Homo sapiens: one gene and its partner. The protein of the gene in region 1 purifies or fractionates together with the protein of each later gene. This does not show direct contact. Each region holds a gene or a part of one and is shown on either strand. Other genes may lie near its edges.

Evidence for each region. The genes of interacting proteins can lie anywhere in the genome.
Region 2: the proteins of FNBP4 (region 1) and LURAP1 purify together in Homo sapiens (affinity purification with mass spectrometry; one large-scale study listed by BioGRID and IntAct). This does not show direct contact.

The regions. Positions count from the first base shown.
Region 1 is NC_000011.10:47,760,842-47,764,341, forward strand, and holds part of FNBP4 (formin-binding protein 4), read right to left. Parts: intron 1-3,500.
Region 2 is NC_000001.11:46,209,834-46,213,333, reverse strand, and holds part of LURAP1 (leucine rich adaptor protein 1), read right to left. Parts: intron 1-3,500. UniProt on the Homo sapiens protein: Acts as an activator of the canonical NF-kappa-B pathway and drive the production of pro-inflammatory cytokines. Promotes the antigen (Ag)-presenting and priming function of dendritic cells via the canonical NF-kappa-B pathway.

The DNA.
Region 1 (3,500 bases):
AGCCACAGTGACCGCCTAGATTCCATATATCTTAAGTGAAATTTGGCAACAGGTACCAAGAGCTACAAAACTCAAGTTTATTTTATATAGTTTCATCTTTGAGACTATAATACCAAGACATAACTCCAAAAAAACTTTGCTCAAAGCTTCTGGTGGCTTGCTTGAAACAACTAAAATCTGTAAACACTCAAATGCTCTCAAACAGTGGACTGGCAAAGCAAATCATAGGACATACCTGATTTATTACCATTTTGTGATAAATCAGACTATTATAGAATCACATGAAATATTACTAAAGGGATTAAAAGTAATGCTAAAGGAATAAAAGCAAGTCATAAAATACATACAAAATTTAATTAAATCTCAGAAAATACAGTGTATATACTGTTAACAGGAATGAAGTTAGAGTAACACTGAAAATAAACGTTCACATTATCAGGTAAAATTGCTTTATCTTAGAAAAATCTCAGAGGCTGGGCATGGTCGCTCACCGCTCTAATCCCAGCACTTTGGGAGGCTGAGACGAGTGGATTACAAGGTCAGGAGTTCAAGACCAGCCTGGCCAAGATGCTGAAACCCTGTCTCTACTAAAAATATAAAATTAGCTGGGGATGGTGGCATGAGCCAGTAATCCCAGCTACTAGGGAGGCTGCAGCAGGAGAATCACTTTAACTCAGGCGACGGAGGTTGCAGTGAGCCAAGATCACACCACTGCACTCCAGCCTGGGCGACAGAACAAGACTCCATCTCAAAGCAAAAAAAAAAAGAGAAAAATCTTAGAAACAAAATCAACAGGATGGTCACGGTGGCTCACATCTATAATCCTAGCATTTTGGGAGGCCAAGGAAGGAGGATCACTTGAGCCTCCTTGAGAACAGCCTGGGCAATAAAGTGAGACCATGTCTACAGAAAGAAAAAAAATTTTATTAAAAACAACAACAAAGCTGGCCAGGTGTCACTGACCTATAAGCAGGTACTAAAGAACTCCAAGAATTTAATTTCTTTTTTTTTTTTGAGACAGAGTTTCGCTCTTGTTGCCCAGGCTGGAGTGCAATGGCGTGATCTTGGCTCACCGCAACCTCTGCCTCCTGGGTTCAAGCGATTTTCCTGCCTCAGCCTCCTAAGTAGCTGGAATTACAGGCATGCGCCACCATGCCCAGCTAGTTTTGTATTTTTAGTAGAGACGGGGTTTCTCCGTGCTGGTCAGGCTGGTCTCGAACTCCAGACCTCAGATGATCCGCCAGCTTCAGCCTCCCAAAGTGCTGGGATTAGAGGCGTGAGGCACAGCGTCTGGCTGTTTTTTTTTTTTGAGATGGAGTCTTACTCTGTCACCCAGGCTGGAGTGCAATGGTGTGGTCTAGCTCATTGCAACCTCCGCCTCCCGGGTTCAAGCGATTCTCCCACCTCAGCCTCACGAGTAGCTGGGACTACAGGTGCGTGCCACCATACCCAGCTAATTGTATTTTTAGTAGCGATGGGGTTTCACTATGTTGGCCAGGATGGTCTTGAACTCCCGACCTTGTCATCCGCCCGCCTTGGCCTCCCAAAGTGCTGGAATTACACGCGTGAACCACCGTGCCCCGCCTATTTTTTTAAATTATTTTTGACACAGGGTCTCATTCTGTCACCTAGACTGGGTTGCAGTGGCATGATCATATATAGCTGACTGCAGCCTTGAACTCCTGGGCTCAAGCGATCCTCCTGCCTCAGTCTCCCAAGTAGCTAGGCCCACAGGTGCTCATCAGCACGTCTAGCTAATTTTAAACTTTTTTGTAGAGGTGGGGGTCTCGGCCAAGTGTGATGGCTCATGCGTTTAATCCCAGCACTTTGGGAGGCTGAGGCAGGTGGATTACTTGAAGTCAGGAGTTCCAGACCAGCCTGGCCAACATGGTGAACCGTCTCTACTGAAAATACAAAAATTAGCTGGGCATGGTGGCGTGGGCCCGTAATCCCAGCTACTTGGAAGGCTGAGGAAGGAGAATCGCCGGAGCCCAGGACACAGAGACTGCAGTGAGCCAAGATCACGCCACTGCACTCCAGCCTGGGCAACAGAGACTCTGATTCCAAAAAAAAAAAAAAAAAAAAAGAGTCTCTCTGCTGCCTAGGCTGCTCTTGAACTCTAGGATTCAAGTGATCCTCCCACCTCAGCCTCCCAAAGCACTAGGATTACAGGCATGAGCCACCCATTTTCAGGGGCGTTAAAAACTAAGCTCCTGGGCTGGGCACAGTGGCTCATGCCTGTAATCCCAGCACTTTGGGAGGCCAAGGCAGGAAGATCACTTAAACCCTAGAGTTGTAAGAACAAGTCCTTGACTACTGTTAAGATGAAGATGTGTTGCAGGCTGGGCGTGGTGGCTCAGACCTGTGATCACCGCACTTTGGGAGTCCAAGGCGGGTGGATCACTTGAAGTCAGGAGTTCAAGACCAGTCTGGCCAACATGGCAAAACCCCGTCTCTACTAAAAATACAAAAATTAGCCGGTAATCCCAGCTGCTCAGGAGGGTGAGGTAGGAGAAATCACTTCAACCCGGGAGGCAGAGGTTGCAGTGAGCCAAGATCACACCACTGCACTTGAACTCAAAAAAAAAAAAAAAAAAAGATTTGTTGCTACTTAAAGCCTGAGAAAGCATGGTCATTCTTCAGAGCCATAGTGTTTTGTTTTGTTTTGTTTTGTTTTGAGACGGAGTCTTGCTCTGTCGCCCAGGCTGGAGTGCAGTGGCGTGATCTCGGCTCACTGCAAGCTCCGCCTCCCGGGTTCACGCCATTCTCCTGCCTCAGCCTCCCGAGTAGCTGGGACTACAGGCGCCCGCCACCACGCCCAGCTAATTTTCTGTATTTTTAATAGAGATGGGGTTTCACCGTGTTAGCCAGGATGGTCTCGATCTCCTGACGTCATTATCCACCTGCCTCGGCCTCCCAAAATGCTGGGATTACAAGCGTGAGCCACTGTGCCTGGCCCAGAGCCATAGTTTTTAGCAGTCTTTTTTTGAGAAAGGTGTTGACCCCTCAAACCTCAACATTCTTACTTACCTTTGAGGGATGGTGCTACACAATTTGTATATCAGCTACCTATATCAGGCAGTAAATTATTTCTTAGGTATATACCTCTTATGGCTTGAATGTGCCCCTAAAAAGGATGTTTTGGAAATTAAATCCCCAGTGCAACAGTGTTGGGAGGTAGGGGCCTAATGGAAGATGTTGACATCACGAGAGGACATTCAAACCACAGGAGTAATCAAGGAAGTTTCTCCTAGAAACATTTAAATTTATATTTTATTTTATGTATTTATTTGAGACAGGTTCTTACGGTCGCCCAGGCTGGAGTGCAGTGGCAAAACCTCAGTTCACTGCAACCTCCACCTCCTGAGTAGCTGCGATTATAGGTGTGCGCCACCATGCCCAGCTAATTTTTATGTTTTTAGTAGAGATGGGGTTTCACCATGTTGGCCAGGCTGGTCTCGAACTCCTGAACTCAGGTGATCCGCCTGCCTCAGACTACC
Region 2 (3,500 bases), on another chromosome or scaffold:
CCAGCACAATTACTGAATATCAATCCCTACTTGATCTGCTATGCCAATATCAAGTGCCATATATCATATTTGTGTATATGCTGTGTTATAATCTTATGAAATCACTATGGTATATGCTGTTCATCGAAACATCGTATGTTTTGGTCGTATGATGACTGAAACATCATATAAATATTTGTGTATGTGTACACACTTATATACACATAAATGTTTATATATATGTGCATATATACACACATGATAAATGTTTATTTGACATATGTAGTCTATCATTGATCAAAATGTTTATATGGTAATCCCAGCACTTTGGGAAGCTGAGGAGGACAGATCACTAGAGGTCAGGAGATCGAGACCATCCTGGCTAACACGGTGAAACCCCGTCTCTACTAAAAATTACAAAAAAAATTTTTGCCAGGTGTGGTGGTGGACACCTGTAGTCCCAGCTACTCAGGAGGCTGAGGCAAGAGAATGGTGTGAACTCGGGAGGTGGAGCTTGCAGTGAGCTGGGATCATGCCACTGCACTCCAGCCTGGGCGACAGAGCGAGACTCTGTCTCAAAAAAATAAAATAAAATAAAATAAAATAAAAAATTAGCCAAGCATGGTGGCTCTTGCCTGTAATCCCAGCTACTCGGGAGGCTCAGGCAGGAGAATCACTTGAACCCGGGAGGCAGAGGTTACAGTGAGCTGAGATGGTGCCACTGTACTATAGCTTGGGTGACAGAGCGAGACTCTGATTCAAAAAAAAAAATTTGGCCGGGTGCAGTGGCTCACGCCTGTAATCCCAGCACTTTGGGAGGCCAAGGCGGGCGGATCACGAGGTCAGGAGATCAAGACCATCCTGGCTAACACGGTGAAACCCCGTCTCTGTTAAAAATACAAAAAAATTCGCTGGGCGTGGCAGTGTACGCCTGTAGTCCCAGCTGCTGGGGAGGCTGAGGCAGGAGAATGGCATGAACCCGGGAGGCGGAGCTTGCAGTGAGCTGAGATCGCGCCACTGCACTCCAGCCTGGATGACATAGCAAGACTCCGTCTCAAAAAAAAAAAAAAAAATTTACATGGTTGTTTATGTTATACATGGTCTGACATTGACCAAAACGTCATTATGTGTGTATGTGTATTTACATATACAGGTCAGATCCCGCAGGTCACACAAACACAGTAAATGTTTTTTGTATTTGAAAAATGTTTATTGAATTATTCAGGAAATAACTGCTTTATTCACATCTATGATAAACCAGAGTAAGACCATGCATTAATATTTGTACATTGAGGCCAGGTGTGGTAGCTCACTCCTGTAATCCCGGCACTTTGGGAGGTCGAGGTGGGAAGATCACCTGAGATCAGGAATTTGAGACCAGCCTGGCCAACATGGTGAAACCCCGTCTCTAATAAAAATACAAAAATTGGCCAGGCGTTGTGGCGCACGCCTGTAAGCCCAGCTACTCAGGAGGCTGAGGCAGGAGAATCACTTGAACCGAGGCAGAGGTTGTAGTGAGCCGAGATCACACCACTGCACTCCAGCTTGGGCAACAGAGCAAGACTCCGTCTCAAAAAAATATATATATATATTTGTACATTGAGAAAATTAGACACTGGAATTAAATGGACCTAGATTTGAGTTCCAGTTTTGCCATTAATGAGCCATATGAAATTAAAATTGATTTCTTTAAACCTTCATTTCTTTATTATAATATGAGGTACTATCTAAAGGTTTGTCATGAGACATCGAAGGAACATATTAACATGCATAGCATACCATCTGACAAGTATAATACTGTAAATCAATAAATGGTAGGCTATTTGGCTCTACATATTACTATGGTCGACTTATTTACTAGTTGTGATATTACTGTGTGTGTGTGTGTGTGTGTGTGTGTGTGTGTGTGTGTGTGCAGGTTTTCATCCAGTTTTTGGCTCATAAGCCCCATAGCCATTGTTACAGTGTTTGTTATAATGCTGGGGCACTCAGAAATAGGCTTCAGGAAACAGTCTCTTTCTGACCTTCTCCTGCTCTCCTCTCACCTTCCCAGAGTAGAACTCTAATCTGATTGTGGGTCATAAGACCCTCATTCCAGAGAAGGTCCTGACTCATACCCTGGAGGAAGGAATGCCGCAGAGAGAGGCCAATAAGAATCTAAACAGACAGGCTTTGCTGGGTTTTGATCAGACCCTTTTTGTCCAATAACATTTTGATATGGTTGTCCATGTTTCAATCGTGGACAACCAATAAAGTCTCTTTAAAAGGCCCAAAGGACCAGGCACAGTGGCTTAAGCCTGTAATCCCAACACTCTAGGGGACTGAGGTGGGAGGATCGCTTGATCCCAGGAGTTCAAGACCAGCCTGGGCAACACAGGGAAACCCTGTCTCTACCAAAAAAAAAAAAAAAAAATTAGGTGAGTGTGGTATTGCACACCTGTAGTGCCAGCTACTTAGGAGGCTGAACTGGGAGGATTGATTGAGCCAGAGAAGTACAGGCTGCAGTGAGCTGTGATTGAGCCACTGTACTCCAACCTGGGCAACAGAACCAGACCTTGTCTCAAAAAATAAAAAAAGGTCCCCACAACAGGATTCAGAGAGCGTCCAAGTAGCTGAACAGATGGAGGGTGGTGCACCCAGGGAGAGCACAGAAGTTCCGCACCCCTTCCCGTATGCCTTGCCCCATGCATCTCTTCATCTATATCCTTTGTAATATCCTTATAATAAACCAGTAAATGTGTTTCCCTGAGTTCTGTGAGCCACACCAGCAAACCAATCAAACCCAAGGAGGGGGTCATAGGAACCCCAATTTGAAGCTGGTTGGTCAGAAGGTCAGGAGGCCCAGATTTACGACTAGTGTCTGAAGAGGGGGACAGTCTTGGGGACTGAGCCCTCAACCTGTGGGATGTGACACTGTCTCCAGGTAGACAGAGTTGAAATTAAATTAGTAGACACCCAGCTGGTATCTGCTGCAGAACTGATTGCTTGCTTGCTGGTGGGAAGAAATCCTCATATATTTTGGGGTCTTCTGTATTAATGATTATTGTTGTGTTGCATTAAGTGAAAAAATTAAAAAAACACACACACACAGTTTAGGGTTTTCTAAACACTATGGCAAAAGCATAGAAAAAAATTTTATACCTGAAATTATTTGTGTTTTTGGAAGAATATCACAACTCTAATTCAATTGAACAAATGACTATTGGGTACATGGATTTGCTAATAATTACAAAGATAATGGAGAAATTGTTCCTGCTTAATAGAAGCTTGCAGTCTCAATAAGGGGAGATGAACATAAATAACTGCAATATCAGACTGTACAGACTATTAACTTGATAAAGGAGATTATCTTCAATTATTTCATCCTGGAGACAAATATATGAACAGTGAAGACAACTGTCCTAGTCCATGACCAAACTAAATACATTAAACAAAGCTCCTCATACTAAAAACACTTGTCCTGCTGTTTTCCCCTCCCTCCTTTCCTTCCTTTCTGCCTCCCTCCATCCCTCCCTTCCTTC